Linked DNA regions of Homo sapiens. The protein of the gene in region 4 purifies or fractionates together with the protein of the main gene of each other region. This does not show direct contact. Each region holds a gene or a part of one and is shown on either strand. Other genes may lie near its edges. The genes, in order: TRABD, NDC1, TMEM59 and ABHD14A.

Evidence for each region.
Region 1: the proteins of ABHD14A (region 4) and TRABD purify together in Homo sapiens (co-immunoprecipitation; 2 studies listed by BioGRID and IntAct, with this or other methods). This does not show direct contact.
Region 2: the proteins of ABHD14A (region 4) and NDC1 purify together in Homo sapiens (co-immunoprecipitation; 2 studies listed by BioGRID and IntAct, with this or other methods). This does not show direct contact.
Region 3: the proteins of ABHD14A (region 4) and TMEM59 purify together in Homo sapiens (co-immunoprecipitation; 2 studies listed by BioGRID and IntAct, with this or other methods). This does not show direct contact.

The regions. Positions count from the first base shown.
Region 1 is NC_000022.11:50,195,869-50,200,095, reverse strand, and holds the end of TRABD (traB domain-containing protein), read right to left. Parts: intron 2,856-4,227; coding exon 2,745-2,855; intron 2,660-2,744; coding exon of another isoform or gene 2,648-2,659; coding exon 2,508-2,647; intron 2,274-2,507; coding exon 2,101-2,273; intron 2,022-2,100; coding exon 1,910-2,021; intron 1,752-1,909; coding exon 1,577-1,751; 3' UTR 981-1,576; coding exon of another isoform or gene 968-980; 3' UTR 501-967; downstream 1-500.
Region 2 is NC_000001.11:53,765,297-53,772,340, forward strand, and holds the end of NDC1 (nucleoporin NDC1), read right to left. Parts: coding exon 7,033-7,044; intron 5,858-7,032; exon of another isoform or gene 5,722-5,857; intron 2,738-5,721; coding exon 2,674-2,737; 3' UTR 182-2,673; downstream 1-181. UniProt on the Homo sapiens protein: Component of the nuclear pore complex (NPC), which plays a key role in de novo assembly and insertion of NPC in the nuclear envelope.
Region 3 is NC_000001.11:54,029,205-54,036,204, reverse strand, and holds part of TMEM59 (transmembrane protein 59 isoform 2 precursor), read left to right. Parts: intron 1-3,899; coding exon 3,900-4,055; 3' UTR 4,056-7,000.
Region 4 is NC_000003.12:51,970,736-51,978,106, reverse strand, and holds the start of ABHD14A (protein ABHD14A), read right to left. Parts: upstream 3,044-7,371; 5' UTR 2,972-3,043; coding exon 2,903-2,971; intron 237-2,902; coding exon 25-236; intron 1-24. Other genes in the region: ABHD14A-ACY1 readthrough (NMD candidate), read right to left, coding at 25-160; putative protein-lysine deacylase ABHD14B, read left to right, coding at 6,437-6,647. UniProt on the Homo sapiens protein: Possible role in granule neuron development.

The DNA.
Region 1 (4,227 bases), on a different chromosome or scaffold from region 4:
CCTCCGCGTGCGTTGGGCAGGTAACTGGATGAGGGATAATGTGGTGAGGTCCCCGTGCCCAACCCTCCTCTGCAGCCCACAGCAACCGTTCCCTCTTCAGCAGCCCCCTCCCCCCGGCCGCTCTGGGCGCCCGTTCCCAGCATCCTCCTTGGCAGGTGTTACCCCTCCCCATTCCCCAGGCCCTGGGCCCTCCTGATCTGTCTCCTCGACCCCCTGGGGCCCCAGTCTGGCTCAGTCTGGTCCACACTCTGGAATCTGGTGGGACTGGGTATGGAGGGTCTTGAGTGTCAGCAGGCCACCTGCGTCCCACCTGGTGGGTGAGAAGGGTCCCACAGGTCAGCATGGAGGGACCCGACTCTGTCTCTTCTGCTGGAAACCAGGCAGGTTCCTTCCCCCAGGGCCCCGGCAGGGCCACGAGTACCCGCTGCACTGGAGCACGGGGGAAGAGGCAGGGATCCTTCATTACCTGAACCCCATGTTCACACGTCACAAAACAGGAGTTTCCAAAATTAGAATTTATTTCAGTTTCTAAGGAATGAATCCCCGAGTGTGGCAGGAAGGACACAGCCGGCTCCTGACGCACACCTGATTTGATTCAACACCGAGTCGGCACAGACACAACCAGAGATGGCCTGGGTCCAGGCTGGGGCTGCACGGGCTGTGTCCTGGACAGCCAGGAGGGAGGCCCCGCACACAGACGGCCGCCGGGCAGGGGGCCTGAGCGGGACAGGCCTGGCCACAGCCCATGTCCTTGGCCTTCCACATAGGTGCACACATTGTCTGCCCAGAGAGGGCCAAGATGCCCCAGGCACCCCTTCGCTCCGGGGGCTCAGGACACAGGCTCCCAGCTGAGGCCACGCCTGGACCCAGAGCTGATGTTTGGCTGCACGCGAGCCCACTCGGGACAGACCCAAGAACACGAATTCTCTCCCTTTGGATTTAAGGCTGGTGTTTTTTGACATTTACTTCAGTTTTTCTCTCTGAAATTAAAATTACCTGAGTAAAAGATTTTAAGACATTAAAAAAGCCAAAAACACAGAATCCCTGCAGGCAGACGGTGCCAGGGAGGTGGCGGCCAGGGCCAGGATGCCAGGGGCACGGTGGGGTCGGCTGGAGCTCCAGGGCTGGGCCTTTCCCAGTCTCGCCTGCCCTGGAGCCCCCAGGAGCCGCCCCTGGGCCGACGCTCCTGTGGCCGGAGCACAGGAAGGCACAGTGAGGTAGGGACAGTGGCCATTGTCCCCCGCCTGCCACCAGGGCTGAGAGGGCAGCGCACGCCTCGGCCCCTCCTATAAGCCCCTGCCCCCTCGGAGCTGGGTGTCTTGTCCAGAAGCTGGGGAACGGCCCCTGCAGTGTGGGAGGGGAGGGGCTGCCGGGAGGCCTGAGCTCAGACAGTTAAATAATCCTTTATTTGGGTGGGCTGGGGGAGGGGTGACTGGCCCAGGAGGGCAGGCGAGGCCGGGCCCAGACCCCCATGGGGGGTGGCAGGGGCCTCGGGCGGGCTAGGATGCACCTGGCACCCAGAAGTGCCGCGGGGGCACTGGCTCCTCAGGGGCCCGAGCGGGCGGGGAGCAGTCTCCTACTTGTGCCGGGCCTCGGTCACCCTCTGCAGGCAGTACTGCGCGGCGGGCAGCGACAGGACCAGGCTCGCGGTGCGGCGGCCCATCCAGTACAGGCTGTAGCCCAGCAGGCCGAAGAAGGCGGCCTTCACGGCCAACCGAGACACTCTGCCGGAGACGGACGGCGGGGGCACGCTGTGGGAGGGAGGGGGCGCTGGGCCTGGCTGGGGGTGGGCTCCCCATACCCCAGCCCCCATGCCTGGGTCACTGCCGCATGTGGTTGGCCTCCAGGGCGCTCAGCCTCCACCTGGGGGCTTGTGGGGTGGGGCTTGCAGGGAGGGGCGGGCACTCACGTCATGATCTCCTGGATGTTGAGGTCGGTGCTCCAGTTCTTCTCGATGCCAGGCACGTGGCCCATGCCCACGACGCCCACGACCACGGAGGGGACGCACTTCCTGGGCTCGGCTGTGGGGAAGGACAAGGGGTCAGTACCTGCTCGGGCCTCAGCCTCACAGGGGGTCCCACGCCTGCGGGCGGCCGTCACCGTCAGAGGCCCGAGGCAGCTCGAGGCGCCGCGCGGCCTGGCGCAGCATGTAGGTTAGGTAGACGTCGCGCTCCGAGACGATGGTGCGGTGCAGGTCTGGGAACTCGCCAATCATCTCGGCCATCATCTGCTCCAGTAGGTCCTTCTGCTTGCAGCGTTCCACGTCATCCTTGCTGTGGAGAGGGATGGCTGCAGCCCCGCAGGGATGGGCAACGGGCTGGGGGGGTGGGGCTGGCACTGTGGACACCGGGCAGGGACCACAGCACGTTTGTTTGGGATTTGTGGCGGAAGGAAAGGGCAGGGAAGGCCTTGAGTGAGGATTGGCTGCGCTTGGACCTGCACAGGAGGGCCTGGAGCCTCCCACAGACCACCCTGCAGGCCGGCCAGGGTCCCGGGGGCAGCCCTACCTGATGGGGTCTGACAGGAAGCACAGGCCCCAAGCCAGCCTGACCTTCTGCCAGAAGGAGAGCGCTGCGATGGCCCTCTTGAAGGTGACGGGGATGGGTCGGTCACCCAGGTGGAACTTGCAGAAAGGCACCTTGCTGGCCTGGAGCAGAGGCTGGGTGTTGGGGAGCAGTGGGAACCCCGGACCACCCCTGTGAGCCACATCCCTGTGGCCACCCCCTACCTCACCCTGTGCCCACCTCCTTGAAGGCCTCCCTGAACTCGCCACCTGGGGCCATGCCCAGCTGCTCGGTGATGTGTGCAGACACCTTCAGCAGCAGCATCTGCATCAGCCCCGACATGAGCCCGTTCTGCAGAGAGAGGGAGCAGGCATCAGCTGGAGGGGCGGGTGCGGGGGTGCGCTGGGGGAATGGCAGAACTGGGATGGCAGGCAGCACCAGCGCAGAGCCCTGCCCCAGCCCAGTGCTGTGTCCTTGGCCCCCTCCCCGACAGGTGCAGGACCACCCTAGCGTGCAGAGGGTCAGACCAGAGCAGGGAGTTCTGTCCCAACAGGCACTTCTCAAAGGTAGCTCCCTTCAGAAAAGACCTTCACGGGCCGGGTGCAGTGGCGCACGCCTGTCATCCCAGCACTTTGGGAGGCTGAGGCAGGCGGATCACGAGGTCAGGAGTTCTCTCTCAGACCAGCCTGGCCAACATGGCGAAACCCCATCTCTACTAAAAATATAAAAATTAGCCGGGTGTGCTGGCGGGTGCCTGTAATCCCAGCTACTCGGGAGGCTGAGGCAGGAGAATCACTTGAACCCCGGAGGCAGAGGTTGCAGTGAGCCGAGATCACCAGCCTGGGTGACAGAGTGAGACTGCTCTGTCTCAAAAAAAAAAAAAGAAGAAGAAAAGGCCTTTATGAGGCAGTCTCGTTCTGCGAAGGGGCCGCCTTGAGCTGGCACAGACGCTGGGTGCTGGGCAGGCAGGCTGGAGAAAGGGCCTCACCACTCACACCTGCCTGCTGAGGTCAGCACAGCACTGCTGGTGCGGACACCAGGCCACCCCCATCTTCAGCAGCTACAGCCCGAGGCCTATTGCCCCTGTCTCACCGGCCGGCTGGCACCACGGGGGTGTCCACGTGTGAAGGAGATGATGCCCACAGAAGGGCAGCAAAGCCCCGGGGGCCACACAGCGCCGGGCAATCGCTCACACCTGCACGCGCCCAGGGACGGTCTGGGCCTGAGCCATGAGCCCTGGGAATGTCCCGCCTGATGGAGTGCCCGTGTTTCCCCGGGGCCCAGGCCACCCTGGGGAGCCCAGGCTAACTTAGGATGAGACATTCACGAGGCCTTGGTCCACTGGGACCCACTCCACCTCTGGAGGGGCTGGGGTCTGAGCTCAGACGTGCCTGTGACCAACCCCAGTAGAAACCTAGACACCAGGGCACAGCGAGTGTCCCCCGGGAGGGGACAGGTGAAGCGGACACCTGGTGTCTCCCAGACCCTGCCCCACGCCCCCTTCCCTCTGTGACACCGCAGCAGTGAGCAGCACGGCACTGCCGAATTCTATGCCCCTTCGAGATCACTGGGCCCCAGGCTCTGGTGGGGAGGCTGCCCAGTGCTGGGCCCTGGCTGGACCGGGGACTGCCCTTTAGAAGACGGCCCACAGAGGTCTTCTTTGGTGACTTGCCTCATCTGGAGAAATTAAAAAATGAAAGGCAGGCGCCAAACGTTTAGGGAC
Region 2 (7,044 bases), on a different chromosome or scaffold from region 4:
CAAATCAGTCTAGGTTAAGGGCAAAAGCTGACTTCTCAAGAAGTTCAACTCTTTCTGGTTTTATAAGCAACAACTCTGAGACTAAATTGAAATGATTCAGGAAACATCACCACCACCACCCCCCCGCCCAGAAATTAAATAATTGACCTTATAAACACACATATTTCAATTAACTGTTCCATTTTTTTAAATTGCCAATTTATTTTTCTACCCAATCCAGTATCAACGATATACAAAAGGATATAAACAGACTATCATGAATATTTACAGGATGACACACCAAACAATTACCAAGGAACAAATCCTGCAAAGTAACAAATTGTTGCTTATCCATGTCCACTCAACTGTACAAGGTTTATTTCTAGGACAATTTCCCAGTTCTCTGGGAAGGAAGTTCTGTGGATTTATACCTTCCATAAGGGTCAAGCAAACATGCTAAGAGCTGATACCATCATGTTTTTATACTAACAGCCGAGAAAGGCTTTTAAAGAACACTCTCTTTCAGGCCAATGTTACAGCATTAGTGGGCTCATAGACAGGATGTGACTTCATCAAAGGAAATGCTTCTCTCCTCTTGGTCTCCCTAAGGTCCTCCTCCTAGTACACAGGAGGAGTTCCCCATAATAACACCCTGGTTCCAACAGATGGTGTGTAGATTATCAACACACAATGAGAAAAAGAAACTGACCCCCTTACCTACCAAATACAATACAGATCTGGGGAGGCAGTTTCCAGATCTTCAACAGGCAGACACTATGTGGCCTGTATTTAGTACACAGCACATTCTCTTAAGAGAAAACAGGAATGAACATTCTCAGAAACATTCACATTGCTCATCAAATGTAGCTTTACCCAAAGTATATAGGAAATGGCAAAAACCTAACCTAGCTGGACATTTTATACAAGTAAGTCAAAGTTCAAAGGAATCATCCTATCTTTATTCTCAGAAATCCAATGTTGAATATCACAGTTCTTCTTTAATGGAAGCAGAAGATTCAGAGTCCTTGTCTCCCAAAATGCCTCAGCCAGGGTCAGCACAGAGAGTGGAATATAAAAAGCTTAATTGTGTTAATACATGGAAGACAACAGTTCTCAGTCAACCTAGCCACAATTTTCTGTCTTGGCCATCTGTAAGAAATGACTACGTTTGAAATTCAACTTTCACATTCAAAAAAAAGAAATCAATTCAGCTTCAGACACAAAGCAAAACCAAAACAAAAAAACAAATGGCAATAGTCTACATATCTAAACACTTGACAATTGGGGAACTGTCCCACAGTGATATGCTCAAGGCCAGTAGCACCTATTTATAATTTGGCATGTACTGCTTGAAGGGGCAACAGGACCCGGAGCTAAAATATTCAATTATAAAGATATAATACATCGATGAATCAGACAAAAGTAGACATATATGATACCACATTAAAGATTCATATACAGTACTGTGCTGACTTTAAAGAAAATATTTTGGGACACTAGAAGGAAAAGACAATAGGAAAAGAATTACAAAGGAGCATTTCAGTCCAAAGCCAGTCCAGTGAATATCTATGACTAGGATTTCCAATCTTTGATCTCCAAAGAAGCTGATCTAATAAATTCTAACAATACTTCGTTCACATTTGGGACACACAACATACTTCCAAGTACAGTAATCCCTCTGACGTTTTGGTTTCACTTGCTATTTGATGACTAAGTTGTTTCTGGCTATAAAGATCTTCCTATTTTAATTAGCCATTTAACACTACAGAGGCTGCTCCCTTTGAGAGACCAGACAAGTTTCACAGAATTTGATCTAATGAAGATGAATGGTGGGGAAAAAAGGGAACATTTCCTGGGTTTTTTTGCAAACCTTTTTCTCTTGCTTGAAAAACTCTGCAATCACTTAATGTTTTGCTCCAGAAAAAGAAAGCAAAACTAGCTGGGAAAATACCCATACATTAATACTTCGTGTTTACTAGCATGATACAAAATAAATTCATAGATGTCAGTCAATTGTTTCTTAAAGACCAAATGTGAATTTTTAATCTTGTAACTTAAGAACTGAGTTTTTCCACATTCCTTTATATAGAGTTAGCATCTGTAAACTGAGACCCTTTTTTGGGTAATCATACAAATTTAATTTGTCCCTGGAAACAAAAACCCAACCTAACAGATTAACAAAATATGTCCGTTAGACAATATTTTTTGTGAATATTGCTGCACTGTTACCATTTTTATCCTTCAGTAAATGAAACTACACTTAAAAAGTTTATGTATTTTGAGTTTACAAAGAGCTAAACTCTTAATTAAGAAGACTATGAAATCAACCTATACTCATTTCAGAACTGGCTTCCCTCCTTTCAAAAGTAAATTCTAAAAGTTTTTTAGTTATTACTATTAAGTTATATGAGCTAGAGACATTTCGACTGCCATCAATGCTTCTGTAAAATTGAATAAAGATTTTATTATACCACACACACAAAAAGCAATCGGTACAGAAAAGGCAGTTTTCAGTTATTCTGTTGAGAATTTCTTTCCATGATTTCTCCCATTAAAGTATAGTTTTCAAAGCAACCACCACGACAAAGGAAGCATCTAATTAGTCCGTTTTCTTCTGATCCAAGAATGCTGAACATTTACTGTCCCATCTGTAGTTGTATCAGCAGTGTAATGAACACAGTTTATATTACTTAACTATTCTTTGAACTCCAAGAACTGTTGAAGTCTTTTCTGATGTTCTGCAGATGCTTGCACAGCACTAAATGAAACATAAATTCAAAGCATAAGCTTTATTTTACATTAAGCATATTAAGTGAACCACAGAGCACAGAGACAATATTTTTCAAAACAATTAAAAATGAATAGAAATCTTCACTTATTACTATTTCTGAAAAAGCTGGATGAAAACTCTTTTTAATCTAATGAAGAGGAGGGCTTGCATTCAGTAATGGCATGCTTCTATCTTCTAAAAGACCAAACAAATTAAGACTGACAAGTGAAGGCATTGACTTTAACCTGCTCTGCTATGGAACCTGCTGTGCGGAGTTCCAGGCCTTGGAGTAGATTTTCTGGATTTTATTATTTTATTTAAACCAGATTCCAACATTATCTTTGAGTTGTGGAGTATCTGAATTGCCTTTAATACAAAATCCTTTAATCTAAAATGTTTGGTTAAAACACAATAGACTCCATTAATTGTTTTCAAAGGTAACAGCTTGGTGGTTTAGATTTACTTCTCCCTTTGAACATAAGTTATGTTTTGGATGTGAACACTGTGTTCTCTCTCCACCCTCACCATCACGAAAATATATTACACCTTGATAAAATTAGGGCAAATATATACTGAAACTAGTATAATACTTCCTCTTAAACTTTTGGGCAAAAATTGAATATAATGAAAAATTCCGGTTTTCTAGTTCTTGAATAGGTCACCGCTTTTAAAAGTGCCAAAACGGTCTTATTTTAATAATTGTGTTATGAATTGCCCTAAAATGTCTTATAGACATCTTTGCTTTCTTGAACCATGTACCTCCAATTGAACCATTTCAAGTATTTTACTGTACAAAGATGCCCTCTAGGTGCTAGTGAGGCTGTCTTCTCTAACTTAATGGCTCTGGAATTCTCTCCAACACCAAATCTGTGGCTTTCCCATTATATTTCTCTCTGCTAGCAGGTAGTAAAGTGTCCCTTACAATTTACTATTAGTACTCCTGACTCTAGTAGCAATCTCTGCCCCTCAAATAAATTTTGATATGGGCCAGGCATGGTGGTTCACACCTGTAATCCCAACACTGAGAGGCCTGAGGCAGGAGAACTGCTTGAGCTCAGGAGTTTGAGGCTGCAGTGAACTATGCTATGATCTTGTCACTGCACTCCAGCCTGGGCAACAGAGCAAGACCCTGACTCAAAAAAATTTTTTTGATATGTTATAGGCTGGAAAACCAGAATTAAATTAGCCTAAATTAGGAGTAAATGGGAGGTGGCAGGGAATGGGGAGATGTAGGTCAAAGGATAGAAAGTTGCACATATGTAGGATGAACAAGTCTAGAGATCTAATGTATAACATGACGACTATGGCTAACAAAATTGTAATGTACTAGGTATTTTTGTTAAATAAGCAGATTTTAGCTGCCTTTGACATACACACAAGAAAGTAACTATGTGAGATGACAGACATGTTAATTTACTTCACTAAACATTTTACTATTTATATATAAATCCCATAACATATGTTATAAACCTCAAATATACACAATACAATTTATCTTTTAAAAAATAAGTAAATAGTGTTGAATGAATGTCTCCAATGAGTGGGCTGTGTTTGTTAGTTGATTTTCAGAGCTCAAGAGCTAACTTCATTTATACCTAGTTCTCAGAGGTAGAGCTTTGAATAGTGAATAATCAGATATTATACAATAAGTATCATGATAATGTAGACTGCACAGTGGGCTTTACCTACGTATGATCCCATTTTATCTTTACTAACAACAAATGAAACCAAGTGGGTGTGAGAATGTTCCCTTTCATGGGGACAAAAACTGTATCAGAAAGATTCAGAAGTTAGGGGAAACACCACAGTCTAGGTTAGGAGTATAGACACTAGAGATAGAACCCTAGGGTTAGAAAGATTTGCATCTGAATCCTGGTTCTGCAACTCACTACTTGCATAATCTTGGGTGAATTACTTAAAACACTAGGAAACTTGCTCACAATCACAGATAGCTAATGATGCAAGCAGACAGAAATCCAGATATTTTAACTCCAGATCTAACATTCTTTCCACTATACGACACTGTCCTACATTTGTACAAATAGCCTCCACTGATTTTATCAGCTTTGGCACATATATAAAATATGGCTCTTTTCAGAGAAAAGAAACTAAGGTGGAATTTCATTCTCACAATTTTTATTTTATTTATGTATTTATTTATTTTTGAGGCAGGGTCTCGCTAAAATATGGCTCTTTTCAGAGAAAAGAAACTAAGGCGGAATTTCATTCTCACAATTTTTATTTTATTTATTTATGTATTTATTTATTTATTTATCTTTGAGGCAGGGTCTTGCTCGGTCGCCCAGGCTAGAGTGCAGTGGTGCAGTATCGGCTCACTGCAACCTCCACTTCCCGGGTTCAAGTGATTCTCCTGCATCAGCCTCTGGAGTAGCTGGGATTATAGTTGCCTGCCACCATGCCCAGCTAATTTTTGTATTTTTAGTAGAGAAGTGGTTTCAACATGTTGGCCAGGCTGGTCTCAAACTCCTGACCTCAGATGATCCGCCCGCCTTGGCCTCCCAAAGTGCTGGGATTACAGCCATGAGCCTCTGCAACCGGCCCATTCTCATAATCCATTCTCATAATTTTTAATCAGTCATCTATATCTCTTTTTCTTTTTTTTCTTTGAGACCGAGTCTCGCTCTGTTGTCCAGGCTGGAGTACAGAGGCACGATCTCGGCTCACTGCAACCTCCGCCTCCTGGGTGCAAGTGATTCTCATGCCTCAGCCTCCCGAGTAGCTGGGATTTCAGGTGAGCACCACCACGCCCAGTGAATTTTTGTATTTTTGGTAGAGACGGGGTTTCACCATGTTGGCCGGGCTGATCTCAAACTCCTGACCTGAGGTGATCCACCCACCTCGGCCTCCCAAAGTGCTGGGATAACAGGCATAGACCACTGTGCCTGGCCTATATCGCTTTCTTATCTAAATCCCTATGCTCCCCTTTTCTTCTTGCCTTTTTTCCCCCAGGGGAATGTTACAGTCCTGCTATTTATCCAGCCACTGATTAAGCTGGATAAAGCTGGCAGGAACTTCAAATTAATCTCGAATACAATGTCCCCCCTGCCTGGACATGAGCACAGTCAGGCAAGGTCTACGGGTATGCCCTTCTCCTTGCTTTTGTTCTATCATTAATATATGTCATATCTATTTCATTCTCTAAATTCATCAGTATTTTCTGAATGTGTCCTACATACTAATTTATATCTTGGAGGCAGTCTAGTGTTGTAGATAGAAAGATGAAAGATTTTTAAGAGAAAGAAAGACTTGATTTCAGGTTCATGTTTAATACGCACTAGATTGTGCTATCAGGCAAATTTTAACATCTCTATGCCTCAGTTTTCGTATCTGTACAATTATGATAATTTCTACACTTCACAGGGTCTTTGAAAAGAGTAAATGAAAAAACATTAAGTTCTAAGTGTATTGTCTAGAATAGCACTATCTGATAAAACTTTCTGGAAGTAGGGAAAGATGTTATACTTCTGTTGTCCAATACAGTAGCTACTAAACACATGTAGTTATTAAGTACTTCAAATGTGGCTAGGGTGACTGACAAATTGAATTTTTAACTTTATTTAACTTTAATTTAAATTGGAAGTCTTAAACTATTCATTGATTGCATACAAAAACAGCAGAGCAATCTCTCGTGTCTTCTAAAGTTCATTTATAATTGTGATAAATATAAATACAGTTTAGTTACTAAGCTAGTATCCCTCATCCTGCCTAGCTAGATCATTTCACAAGAGGAAAGCAGTAAACATGAATAAAACTAAATATAAACAGGCTTGGCATTTGTGGTTTTCTCTCTGGTTCTGTTTCTCAAGGTGTTGTGATCTGTTGGTGTTTTTCCAGCATGAATCACAAAGCACCAGGGATTCATTTCTGGAATACTTTGCTCACCCCAAGTCTTCAGTTTGCTGACCAAGATATAACAATAGAATTAGTTTTAATATGCTTTTCTGGAAAGGTACTCGGGTTTTCTGCTCTTTTTTCTCCCTTAAGGATCTTTTGATAATTTAAATATATATATATAATTAATCTGCTGCATTTATAACTTTCTGTCTTCTTTTGTCCATTTGAAAGAAATCCCCAAAGCTTTATGATGGGCCAAATTTTAAAATATAAATATTAAGTCCACATCCAAGCTGTAAGTTTACAGTGAGAATCATCAAGGTCCCAAAAGAACACTTTCAACACATGAGCCTTATCATTCCCATACCTATTTCTAAGGAAAGCTCCCCAGAATAGGTATCATCATGGATCAAAACAGGTAAACTTACTTCAGATGTTCA
Region 3 (7,000 bases), on a different chromosome or scaffold from region 4:
GGTTCAAGTGATTCTTCCTCAGCCTCCCGAGTAGCTGGGACTACAAGCATGCGCCACCATGTCCAGCTAATTTTTGTATATTCAGTAGAAATGGAGTTTCACCATATTGACCAGTCTGGTCCTGAACTCCTGATCTCAAGTGACCTGCCCACCTCTGCCTCCCAAAGTGTTGGGATTACAGGCGTGAGCCACCATACCCAGCCAGAGAGAAGACTTGTAGAACCACTTAATAGTTTAAATTAATTACCACAATATTAAGGATCAGTGCTGCTTTAGAAGCAGCAAGGCTGGGCCAGGTGTGGTGCTCATGCCTCTCTAATCCCAGCACTTTGGGAAGCCTAGGCAGGAGGATCACTTGAGCTCAAGAATTTGAGACCAGCCTGGGCAACATGATGAGATCCTGTCTCTATGAAAAATTATAAAAATTATCTGGGTATGGTGGTGCGTGCCCGTGATCCCAGCTACTTAGGAGGCTGAGGTGGGAGGATCACTTGAGCCCAGGAGGTTGAGGCTGCAGTGAGCCAGGATTGTGCCACTGTACTCCAGCCTGGTGACAGAACAAGACCCTGAGTCTCAAAAGAAAAGAAAAAAAAATGCTGGAGTGTTTGATTTTGAGTTGTTATATTCTGGTATCTAACCCCAAAAGAGATGGGAGACATTGTGACTTCCTTGGTAATTAAAATTTAACTGGCCCAAAAAATATAACTGTTAAGGTAAAGGATTTTTGTTTGGGGGAAAGGCTATAATTTAATTATTCAACTTAGCTTTCAAGAACAGAAAAGTATTTATATAACTAAATATAGAATAATAATGGCTGTCAACATCTAATCCAACTGAAATAAACTTTAGTTTTCTTATGCCTCCAAAGTACCATAGAAAAAGAGAAAAGACAGAAATTAGAATCTAATAATAAGCCATTGGCATGTGCCTAACATGGTGCCTGAACAACTGTCTTATCCTAATAGACTATAAAGATGTTTAAATATATGATTTGCACATGAAAAATGATTAAGATAATATTACACTTAATATTTTTATTAAGGTGATATAATTGATGTAGGTACCTGGAAACTGGGACAGGATAATGTTGATAACTAACATTTATATAGTCGTTAAAATTTACAAAGTATTTTCATGTATCTTCATATTCTTCCCATCTAACTGAAATGTTGTGTCCTTTAACCAACATCTCCTCAGTCTCCTACCTCCCTTCAGTGGCTTCTTTCATGTTGATGTATAAAATCAAACAGTTCCTGGTTGCTGCTTCAAGATCTTTAAATATTGTTAGGTAGAGTTGTGAACATTTTTCTTTCACAGTGCCCCAGAGCCAACGGTCACATGTGAATTCTGAGTTTTATGGAGGCCTGCTATATCAGATCCATCAGATCCACGTCCAACCCATCAACCACTGAACTTTCTTTTTTCTTTTTTTAGACAGGGTCTCGCACTGTCGCTGAGGCTGGAGTGCAATGGCACGATCTCAGCTCACTGCAATCTCCACCTCCCGGGTTCAAGCGATTCTTGTGTCTCAGCCTGCCGAGTGGCTGGGACTACAAGCGCACACCACCACACCCAGCTTATTTTTGTATTTTTAGTAGAGATGGGGTTTCACCATGTTGGCCAGGTTGGTCTCGAACTCCTGACCTCAAGTGATTCGCCTGCCTTAGCCTCCCAAAGTGCTGGGATTACAGGTGTGAGCCACTGCGCCTGGCCTGAACTTGTCTTAAAGCTACTCTCATACTGGAAAAGCTTAAGGTACTGGGGCACCTCCTTGCAGGATAGTTGTTCCCCTGAGGCAACCGTCCAGTAGAACACATCTGAAACATGTGTGAGTAAGCAACTATCGTGACAATCACTTTTAGAACATTTTCATCAGCCCAGAAAGAAAATCTATACTCTTAGTAATTGCTCCCCATTTTCTCCCAAGCAGCAGCAGCTGCACCACCCCTACCCCCATCTCACCCTCCAGCCCTAGATAGCCAATATGTAGTCTCTTGTGACTGGCCTCTTTGACTAAGCATATTTTCAAGGTTCATCATGTTATAGCATGTATCACTTTATCACTTTTTTTTTTTTTTTTTTTTTTGAGATGGAGTCTTGCTCTATCGCCCAGGCTAGAGTGCAGTGGTGCGATCTCGGCTCACTGCAAACCTCTGCCTCTCGGGTTCAAGCGATTCTCCTACCTCGGCCTCCCTAGTAGCTGGGACTACAGGCATGCACCACCACACCCAGCTAATTTTTGTATTTTTAGTAGAGATGGGGTTTCACCATGTTGGCCAGACTGGTCTGGAACGCCTGACCTCAGGTGATCCACCTTCCTCAGCCTCCCAAAGTGCTGGGATTACAGGCTTGAGCCACCACGCCCAGCCAGGATAGCATGTATCACTTTTGATAAACTCTTGAAGGTGCTCTTTATTCAGCATCTTTTAAAAACACCTTTCCAGTATCGGGTACTTCTGTGGAGTTCTTGCTTTATAATCTAGTCAGTTGTCCTGCCAGTGATATCAGCACTTCAGTTTCTAACTTTTGGATACAGGGATTTGTTGCCGTATGAGTAGATTAACAACAGAATCTATACCATTTTTTTTTTTTTTTTTTTTTGTGAGACAGAGTCTCACTCTGTCCCCCAGGCTGGAGGGCAGTGTCGCGATCTCACCCCACTGCAATCTCTGCCTCCCGGGCTCAAGTGATTCTTGTGCCTCAACCTCCTGAGTAGCTGGAATTACAGGCATGTACCACCATGCCTGGCTAATTTTTTGTATTTTTAGTGGAGACCGGGTTTCACCATGTTAGCCAGGCTGGTCTCGAGCTCCTGACCTGAAGTGATCCGCCCGCCTCAGCCTCCCAAAATGCTGGGATTACAGGCATGAGCCACCGCACCCAGCCTATGCCGTTTCTTAGTGGAGACTTTTCACTTTGCTTTTCTGCCTTTAAGAGATACATACGGACAGGCCTAGTGGCTCACACATGTATCCCAACACTTTGGGAGGCCAAGGTAGGAGGATCACTTGAGGCCAGGAGTCTGAGACCAGCCTAGGCAACATAGCAAGACCCCATCATTTAAAAAAAAAAAAGAAAGAAAAAAAAAAGAAAGAAAGAAAAAAGAAAAATTAGCTGGGCATGGTGGTGCATGCCTATAGTCCTAGCTACTCAGGAGGCTGAGGCAGGAGAATCACTTGAGCCCAGGAGTTCAAGGCCTAGTAGTGAGCTATGATCACACCACTGCACTCCAGCCTGGGTAACAGAACAAGACCCCGTCTCTTTAAAAAAAAAAAAAAAAGAGACAGAGACATTCATACATATATCTAAGTCTACCTACTCTCAAAAGATGCTAGATATTACTATTATTCTCCAATGAGTTTTATGACATTTGCAGTGATTCTGTTTTATGCTTTCATTCTTTTAGTGTCTTCTTGTATATGGTATTAACAATTAAGGAACTTTATATATTTATGAAGACCCTTCTATCAGTGTGAGAGCATTTCATGCATATTCTTTGTTCTCGCAGCCTTTTCAAATAGCATCTATCATTTTCCATACATGTTAAGCTAAAACATTTAGGAGCAGAAAAACTTGCACCAAATTATTTTACCACTTGGTAGGAGAGCTAAGATGTTGAAGGACTTGATCACTTAAGGCATCCATAGCTGTTTTTCTTGATACCCAATTGTTATACTCCTGAGGATTTTAACTTGAGACGTGGAACAGCTTTCTTTGGCCATCCATTGGGAGCTGAATCACATATCTACAACACTTTGAGAAAAAGTATTCTTCTTTCTTAAAGTTGTTTATAGAATTTTTTTTACCAACTATTTATAAATTAAATTGTTATTTAAAGACTAACTTGGAGAGGTTCCTAATTATCCAGACTACTAATGTACATTGGTTTTCTTTTGCAGAAGCTGAGTATCTATGGTGACTTGGAGTTTATGAATGAACAAAAGCTAAACAGATATCCAGCTTCTTCTCTTGTGGTTGTTAGATCTAAAACTGAAGATCATGAAGAAGCAGGGCCTCTACCTACAAAAGTGAATCTTGCTCATTCTGAAATTTAAGCATTTTTCTTTTAAAAGACAAGTGTAATAGACATCTAAAATTCCACTCCTCATAGAGCTTTTAAAATGGTTTCATTGGATATAGGCCTTAAGAAATCACTATAAAATGCAAATAAAGTTACTCAAATCTGTGAAGACTGTATTTGCTATAACTTTATTGGTATTGTTTTTGTAGTAATTTAAGAGGTGGATGTTTGGGATTGTATTATTATTTTACTAATATCTGTAGCTATTTTGTTTTTTGCTTTGGTTATTGTTTTTTTCCCTTTTCTTAGCTATGAGCTGATCATTGCTCCTTCTCACCTCCTGCCATGATACTGTCAGTTACCTTAGTTAACAAGCTGAATATTTAGTAGAAATGATGCTTCTGCTCAGGAATGGCCCACAAATCTGTAATTTGAAATTTAGCAGGAAATGACCTTTAATGACACTACATTTTCAGGAACTGAAATCATTAAAATTTTATTTGAATAATTATGTGCTGAAATTTGAGTATCTGATTTTTCTAGACCTTCCCTCCTATTCCTGCCCAACCTAGATAAGAATTATGAAATGTTCTGTGTTTATTGCTATTGCTTTATAATGTGATGGTCAGGGACCATTTTGATGCAAAACTGATCTCTCAGCAGTACATTTGATGTTATTTTGCACAGGCTATAGGTTTTTGTTTGATGAGTGTTTCCAAAGAACTATTTTTCTCTGTTAGATAGCATATCAAGTATAAGGTAAACATATTTTCAGAGAAAACTTCATTTTAACACTAAAAATTAGACTCTTGTGATACAGAATTAAGTATAAATTTTACTTGGCAAAAACTCGTTTTATTTTTACCTGCAATAATACAGAGCTTAATATTAGAATGATATCAGGTCATAATAATAATACACCAGAATCTTTTGAGATGGAATTTTGCTCTTGTTGCTGAGGCTGGAGTGCAATGGTATGATCTTGGCTCACTACAACCTCCACCTCTGAGGTTCAAGCGATTCTCCTGCCTCAGCCTCCCGAGTAGCTGGGATTACAGGCATGCGCCACCACACCTGGATAATTTTGTATTTTTAGTAGAGACGGGGTTTCACCAGGTTGGCCAGGCTGGTCTCGAACTCCTGACCTCAGGTGATCCACCCACTTAGGCCTTCCAAAGTGCTGGGATTACAGGCGTGAGTGACTGTGCCCAGCCTACACCAGAATTCTAATATGATTCACTGTTATTATGCCATAAAATATTAAAAACTTTGTAAAACAATACTTTCCTCAGTCACAGGGGCATTGCTGACAACTGCATCAGTGCTGTTTGACTAAAGAATAAGTTAGTCACTCCTCCTATGGCCTAGTCTTTAGCCTTCCTGAGTCCAAATGAAAAGCAGTTAACAGCTAATCAAGGAAGACTTTGGTCACAAAGTGTAGGTTTTTATTTTTAGTTTGTCTAGATTTGGATGATAGAAAGTTGTGAACACATCCAGATGGGGAAGAAAGGAGGAATTAGCCGTCATTGTCAAGCAGTCATTGTTTCTTTCTTCTTTTTGTTAGAAAACATGGGATAAAACGTGGGGACTCAGCCAGGCACAGTGGCTCACGCCTGTAATCCCAGCACTTTGGGAGGCCAAAGCAGGAGGATCACTTGAGGTCAGGAGTTCGAGACCAACCTGGGCAACATAGCAAGACCCTCTCTGTACAAAAAAATACAAACAAACATGGGGACTATATAAAACATGGGTAGTGGATAGGAGTTACCATTAAAAAAAAATAAAAAGCCCTGTTGTTTCGTCTCCCATCATTAGTGCATACTTAGTTTCCTTAGTCAGGCACAGGTTTAATTGTAATGCATCCAATGAAGCAAACAGAGAAACACAAAATGCTGCTGTCTCACAGGAATCAAAGAGCCCACTGTTAGAAAAGACCCTCCCTTATAAAAACAAAACAAAGAATTATCTAGATCACTTGGGGCCAGGAGTTCAACACCATCCTGGGCAATATAATGAGAATCCCATCTTTTTTTTTTTTTTTAAAGCAACTGTACAGTTGTCCTATATTCTCCACCTTCCCTTGGTTTCATTTCTCTTCGCTTCCTGAATGAGAAGTGCCTGAGATACCTTCATTTCTCTTGAAAGTATTGATCCAAGTTTAGACAAATATCTCCCCTCTTGTTGAGAGAATTCCTTATATGTGAAAATACCAAGACATTCTTGATATTTAGCAGGCACTCAAATATTTGTCTCCTCTTTTTTAGCATAATTAAGCCAGACTGATGTTTGCATTTGAGTATCATCAGCATGAGTAACCATTTTAATCTCTCTTCCCTTAACTACTTGTTCTACACTAGAGTCTAGGGTCAGGGTACGTACAGTGATAAAGATTGAGATAATGGGAAATATAGTCTTCTGTTTGGGAAGCTGGATTGTAGTGTTGATTTTCTGACTCCTTGTGGTAATTAAATTCTGAAGCACAGAATCTACTTTTGAGAAGAAATATTTTACTTTTGAAAAAAAATCCCCAAAATATATACAGCATAAAAATGTTTCCGATCTTGAAAATCCCAACCAAAGCAACAAAACTGAGCTTCCAAGCCCCTTCTCCTAAAGTAACAGTTTTGCCCTTCTTGGATGTGCCTAACTTTACTTAGCTCCTTGTTTCCATAAAACAGTCATAATCTTATTTCCTACCACACAGAAAGCATCTTGAGAATCTGGTCTTGGTCCTAGGCAAATTCTCAAGACCGTTGGGTCTCTGGTTCAAACCTCCCAGACTTCTAAGGTCTTTCTTGGCTCAGGTCCCTCATCTAAGAGACATGCTAATTCAGGCAATTACAAAAGCAGTACTAATCACCATAATGAATGATCTGGGCCTAGGTTCCAAGTTTTCTCACAAAACTTCATGGGCACCTTTCATTTGTGATATGTTTTGTAGTAAATCAGAAATTACTAGATGATCTGGTCAATCTTATC
Region 4 (7,371 bases):
CTAGACCCTTGGAGCAGCACCTACCTGTGTGCCTGGTTGAGTGGGAGCACCTCGCGGTAAAAGATGGGCGAGTTGCCAGGGGTGAGACCAGCCAGGACTGTGACATTGGGGTCTCCCCAGAGGCAGGAAGTCTGCTCAGGGGGGCCTGGCAGCCCCACATACAGTAGGAGCATGAGCAGCAGACTCAGGCCCAGCAGGGCTACCTGGGACCGGCTCATGGAGGTCTGTACCACAGTCTGGAGAGGGAGAGGAGAGGGAAAAGAGGCTGGAACTGAGTCCCTACAAGGACCCTGGATCCCATCCCAAAACCCCACCCAGAGTCCCCAGCAGAGGAAGAGCTCCAGCCCTTGCCCTTTCCCTTGCTCTGGGCAAAGTTCTGGGAGTTCACACTCAACTACTCCACATGCCAGGGCAAGCGCTCAGATACCTCACAGTGTGAGGAGGTGCATCTGAGGTGTTCTCTGGCACACAGCATGCTCAGTGACCGCCACCATCATGGCATCAGCTGAAACCACTTCCGTTCATCAAGCGCTTATGACAGCAGGCCCTGAGTGTGGCACTTCACATACAAGGTTCTTTTCCACCAAGAATGCTGGGGAGCAGACGTGATTATAGGTCTCTTATAGGTGAGGAAATGGAGGCTCAGAGAGGTACATTCTCTTGCCCAAAGTGCCAAGTAGCAAGTGGGGGAATTGGGGTTTGAACCTAGGAATGGGCTTCTAACTACCAGGCCACACTCGGTTTGCCAAGGAGGAACCCGTGGAGCTGGGAGATGATGGATGAACTGGAGCCTTGCAGGTGGAAAAAGTGATGAGGGCTATCAAAGGAGAAAGACTGCGCGCAAAGGGACCTCCCACTTAAGGGCATGTTTGGAAATGGTTCTTTTAATCTCACTGCATTTAATACTGCTAAAATCAGAACGCGTTTTACAATCGCATTATAACTAAGGTCTAACCCAGCTGTTATGAAGAGGCTCACAGAGAATGTCTTGTAATAGAGGAAAATGCTGAGGAGTGAGGGGCTGCAGGGCCAGGGAGGAGCATGGTACACCCAGAAATGAAAAGCACAGTGTAGAGGTTGGAGAGATGAATGCCGCCTGCTACTCCCCATCCTACACACAGACAGCTTCTGGCCAAATGACTGCTTCGTGGACTCCTCCAATCTGGGGTCTCTGCCACCCCAGAGGACAGCCCTTAGGACCCAGGACTCAAACAGGACAGGCCTTTGAGACTGCCACTTCCTGACCTTGTGTCTTCAGTTTGTCAGTAAAATGGGATAACCTCGTGGCTGCCCTCCTAAGCTTCCTGTGAGATTTAGATAATACCGTGGACTGGATCAGGGCTGTCCCTGTCATTTCTTGGGCCTAGGATGAGCACGCCTGCTTCCTTCCAGGAGTCCAGCAAACACATCTTTATTTTATTTTTATTTTTCTGAGACGGAGTCTTGCTCTGTCGCCCAGGCTAGAGTGCAGTGGTACAATCTCGGCTCACTGCAACCTCCGCCTCCCGGGTTCAAGCAATTCTCCTGCCTCAGCCTCCCGAATAGTGGGATTACAGGCTCCCGCCACCGCGCCCGGCTAATTTTTGTATTTTTTAGTAGAGACAGGGTTTCACCATGTTGGCCAGGCTGTTCTCGAACTGCTGGCCTCGTGTTTCACCCGCCTCGGCCTCCCAGAGTGCTGGGATTACAGGCGTGAGCCACCGCGCCGGGCCAGCACATCTTTATTGAGTGCCAACTGGGCGCCTGCCCGAACTAGGAGCCGGGGGCCCGTCTTGGTTCCTATTCATCCCTCCGGGATGTTTTGGGGATGTTTCCTGAGCCCGCATCCCCAGGCTTCGGGGTCGGGGGGCTTGTGAGCCACAGCAGCAGCCGCCTTTCTGCTGTTTCTGGAAAACCAGGACCTAGTGGAGGAAGAGCGCGTTCCTCTTTTCTTCCAGACCACTAACAACCTCAGACGCGCGTCTCTAACTGGGCGTTAGTCCAGATTCCCACCGGGCGCGAGGGACATTTCCTTGCTGCCCACTCGGGGCGCCCCCGCGCTTCTCCAAAGCGGGAAGGGCGGGGCTTAGGCTGTTGCCTTGGCAACCGAGGGTGCCCGCAGTACTAGGAAATTGTAGTGGACCTGCAGCTGGCCGCCTGCGGGGGTTTGCGGGGGGCAGGGTAAACTGTGCCCGGGTTAGGTCATTGGAATATGCGTTGACAATGACACACAGGTGCACACACGCACAAATACGAGTCTTGCCCCCACACGCTTTTCTTTTGCACAAGCTATTCCCTGCATGTACATGCAGCCTCTTTGCACACACACTGGCCCGTGTGCAATTAATCCCTTGTAATGGTACCCTCTACATCACGCACACAGTCAGGCATCAGGAAGCCAGAGAGACTGATGGAGATGCACACTTTGAAAACCACAGGCTGATCCTCAGAAATACTCAAGCACGGTCATACACACAACCGTAAGACTACACATTCACACAAGAAAGGCACATGCACAGGAAAGCAGACACGCACACACACACAAACCCCCAGAAATGCACACACGCAGACAGGTAGACACATACCCTTAAAATCACACGCACACAGAAATACACTCGGAAGACATAACGCTGACACAAGCAGGCAGACATCAACGAACACACCCCCCCCCCAAAAATATAAGCGCGCAGAAACCCACTGACGGACACCATGCAGACACACAAGCGTACACATACACCCAGACCCCCAAGAACATATGCAGACCCTGCGCGCGCACACACATTACACGCGCGCACATGCACATTCGCGGCCCCAGCGTCTGCTTCTTCCGCGGGACTCTGCCCCGGGGCGCCGGGGCAAGGGGCGGGGTAAAGACGGCCCTCCCCTGGGCCACCGGCCGGCCTCCCTCCCCCGGGAGACTCACCGGGCCCAACGGGATGAGCGGGCGGGCCCCGCCCAGGCGGAACCAGCAGCCGCACAGCGCCCCGACCATGGCTGCCTCCGCAGCTCCGCGGGCCGCTCCGGCTCTAGGCGGCCAGGAGCGCGGCCATCTCGGCGCGCCTGCGCACTCCGCAGCCGCGGGCCTGCAACCCAGTTACCGAGTCGTCTGCGTGGAGGGGGTGCTGGGGGCAGAGCCCCAGCGCTCTCTGGCCCGCTCCCCGCCCAGATTTTCGGAACTGTTTTTGGCTTGAGAGCCGGCGGAGAGCCATGTGGCTTCTTCTCAGTGGAACATCTCCACCCTGGCTCAGTTCTCTGGCCTGTATAATGGAGTTAAGGATAAAACCCACCGCACAGGGTTGTCCTAGGTTCTTAAGGACGGGTCAAGCCTCAGAACAGTGTCCGGAGCAGAGGCCTCGTTGTGTAAATGCCAGATATTGTTATGCAGCAGCTCCAGGTCTTGGCCGACCCACTTTCCTGACTCCTACCCACTCCTCCCCACCCCCTCCCCGACGCACACCCACGGTCAGAGCCTGGGCTGGCCCTGGGCTCGTTCACGTCTACTCATGGCGCCTGCCCTGGTTGGCGATGTGTTACCAACGTCTGGCCTGTCCCAGCCCAAGGCTCCGCGTGGCGACCAGGCCCAGCACTGGGAGGCTGTGCAGAGCGTGGCGTTTACTGCTTATTGCTACTCTGCAGAGGTTGGCAACATCTGACCCGCTCTACTGGCAGGAAACAGGCTCGGGGGCATTGGGAAAACGATCAAGGCCACTTGGCTGGACACTGGCGGAGCCTCGCACTCAAACCTGTCGGGCCTCAACTCCGTGCCAGGCCAACAAGTTGCCCTGGGCAGTTCAAGCTGGGGATAAGGGGGATGGGGAGCAGGAAGACAGCAGCAAGGATGCGATCCCGAAGGAACTTTCCTCCTCAGACTGCTCCATGTCCATGTGGGGCAGGTCGCTGAAGAGTTCGAAACCGTGCTCAGCACCGCGTTTGGGGCATGTGAGACCGAGAGGCTTTGGGAAACTGACGCCGCTGTGAGAACGAGTTTAGCGGAGTCTATGGACGCTGCGAGCTTGTGGCCACAAGAGGGCGCCCCGGAGCACGGCCCAGTCCCCGCCCCCGCTGGATGGGGCCCGGCCTCTTCCCAGCGTTCCTCCTCCGGCCCCAGGTCACCGCCAGCACGCGCCTGCTTCCCGTCTGCGCGAGTCCACGCAGCTCCCCAGGTACCCGCCCTGCACTCCTGACCCTTTCTTCTCTCCAGTCAAAATCCAACCCCACCTACCCCAAGTCTTCCTTTCTCGGATCCCTGGGTCCCCTCCTTGGGAGTTGCCACCATTCCCTCCCGGTGCTCCCTTCCAGAGCTAGCGAGCCAGAACCGTAGTCCGCGGAAGCAACCTGACCGCGAGGTCAACGCGTTGGGCCCCAGGTGGCAGCGCGTTGAGCACCCCGCATCCCCGGCGGGTCGCCTTTCCCACTGGGCGCTTCGGTTTCCGCCTCTAGAAAATGGGCTTTCCGGTGTGGAAGCGCGCCTGTGGTTCCAGCTACTGGGGGTGAGCCGGGAGGATCACTTGAGCCCAGGAAGGTCAAGGCTGCAGTGATCCATGATTGCGCCACTGCACTCCAGCCTGGACGACAGAGCGAGACATCTTCTCTTAAAAAAAAAAAAAAGAAAAAAAAAAAAACCGAAGAAAATGGGCTTTTAGTTCCGGCGCGGTGGCTCACGCCTGTAATCCCAGCACTTTGGGAGGCCAAGGTGGGTGGATCACTTGAGGTCAGGAGTTCCGGACCAGCTCGGCCAACATGATGAAACCCCGTTTCTACTAAAAATATAAAAATTAGGCCGTGCACGGTGGCTCACGCCTGTAATCCCAGCACTTTGGGAGGCTGAGGCGGGCGGATCACGAGGTCAGGAGATCGAGACCACCCTGGCTAACACGGCGAAACCCCGTCTGTACTAAAAAAAAAAAAACAAAAAATTAGCCGGGCGTGGTGGCGCGTGCCTGTAGTCCCAGCTACCCGGGAGGCTGAGGCAGGAGAATGGCGTGAACCCGGGAGGCGGAGCTTGCAGTGAGCGGAGATGTGCCATTGCACTCCAGCCTGGGCGACAGAGCGAGACTCCGTCTCAAAAAAAAAAAAAAAAAAATTAGCCAGGCATGGTGACGCACGCCTGTAAACCCAGCTACTCGGGAGGCTGAGGCAGGAGAATCGCTTGAACCCAGGAGGTGGAGGTTGCAGTGAGCCGAGATCATGCCACTGCACTCCATTCTGGGCAACAAGAGTGAAACTCTGTCCCAAAATAAATAAATAGAATAAAATAAAATAAAATGGGCTTTTTACCCCAATTTGGGCTCCCTCTGGCCTGCATTGACAACTCATGACCTGTAACTTACCGTTGATTGAGCACTGAGCCCTTACTACGTGCTAGGCATGGTACATGCATGGCCTTATTTAATCCTATCAACCACCTATGAGCTAGTACTATTGAATTATCCCCATTTATAGAAAAGGATAATAACGATGAGAATAAGAACAGTAATTGTAATGGAGCCCCACCACATATTGAGGTTTTACAGCAGGCACCCCCACTGATAATTTTTCTGTTTTTTGTTTTTTTGAGATGGAGTTTTTCTCTTGTTGCCCAGTCTGGAGTGCAATGGCGCGTTCTCGGCTCACTGCAACCTCTGCCTCCTGGGTGCAAGCAATTCTACTGCCTTAGCTTCCCAAGTAGTTGGGATTACAGGCGTGTGCCACCACAGCTGGCTAATTTTGTATTTTGAGTAGAGATGGGGTTTCTTTCTGCATGTTCATCAGGGAGATCTCGAACTCCTGACCTCAGGTGATCCGCCCGCCTCGGCCTCCCAAAATGCTGGGATTACAGGCGTGTGCCACCGCGCCTGGCCTAATGAGAGTTACATGTGACCATCAGCTGGCTCTTTTTTTTTTTTTTTTTTGTGACCGAGTCTCACTCTGTCACCCAGGCTGGAGCACAGTGGCACGATCTCGGCTCACTGCAACCTCTGCCTCCCGGGTTCAAGCGATTCTCCTGCTGAGTAGCTGGGACTACAGGCACGTGCCACCACACCTGGCTAATTTTTTTTTCTTTTTAGTAGAGACGGGGTTCCACCATGTTGGCCAGGGTGGTCTTGAACTCCTGACCTCAGGTGATCCACCCGCCTCGGCCTCCCAAAGTGCTGGGATTACAGGCGTGAGCCACCATGCCTGGCCGATAATTTTTCTTAAACTTTTAATTAAATTGCTAATTCTTGAAGTTGGCTTTATTGTTCCCATATTTCAGATCAAGAAGCTGAGGCCCCAGGTTACACACTAAAGTAAATGGCAGAGGCAGAAATAACACCTATGTCCTCCTGACCCCAAGGCATGTTCTTAAAGTTCTGGAAACCTCCTGGAGGCTTCCTTGCTGCTCCTCTGGGACTGCCACCCTGGGCAGGGTGTTCTGTGGCCCCTCATCATCGTGGTTTTGAACCACAGGCCCTTCACCAGCACAGCAGCAGCAGGCATGGCAGCAAGCGTGGAGCAGCGCGAGGGCACCATCCAGGTGCAGGGCCAGGCCCTCTTCTTCCGAGAGGCCCTGCCCGGCAGTGGGCAGGCTCGCTTCTCTGTACTGCTGCTGCATGGTATTCGCTTCTCCTCCGAGACCTGGCAGAACCTGGGTACACTGCACAGGCTGGCCCAGGCTGGCTACCGGGCTGTGGCCATTGACCTGCCAGGTACTTAAGGGGCAGGCTTCTGGGCAGGGTTTGGGGAGGTCTCATTAGGGACAGGGCCAGGTTCCTATAACATGTAGCCCCTCCCCACTCCAGGGGTGGGGGCGGTGGGATCTGGAGGACCCAGCCAGGCTGGGCCCTGAACTTGACAGCGTTTGGTCAAGCACACTGCAAGGGCCTCTGAGCAGTCTTGATCCAGATGTGGTCCTCACCGCCCAGCTGCTCCTCACTGTTACCTGGGCATTGTCTCAGTGTCTCTGAGCCTCTGTTTCCTCATCTGCAATGGGAGATAACCACACTCATGTTTTGGGCTCGCTCTAATGAGAATGGAATGAGATAATCCATGTGAGTATGTGGCTAGTACCTGACACAGAGTAATCGGTGCTCAGCCAATTGGAAGTAAAGTATTTTGACTGAATAATAACCATAGGCTTTTGGAAGCCCTAAGGAGTGAGACCTGAGTCTTCTGGGGGACAAGGCAGGGCCTGGTGGGTGGCCAGGCCCCCACTTGTGATCCCACATGCAAAGCCCTGAGCTGGGTTCTAGGGTAGATGGGATCAGTGCCCAGACTGCCTGTCATAACCCAGATGGCTGGGTCCCAACCCTCGGTGCCAGGTGTGAAAGGAGCAGCATGGCTGGCCCCACCCCCTCAGGCCAGGGATGGTATGGTTTCAGGGCTCAAGGGCGAGCCTCCTGCCCAGGCAGGATTGATTCCAATGGTGGGTTG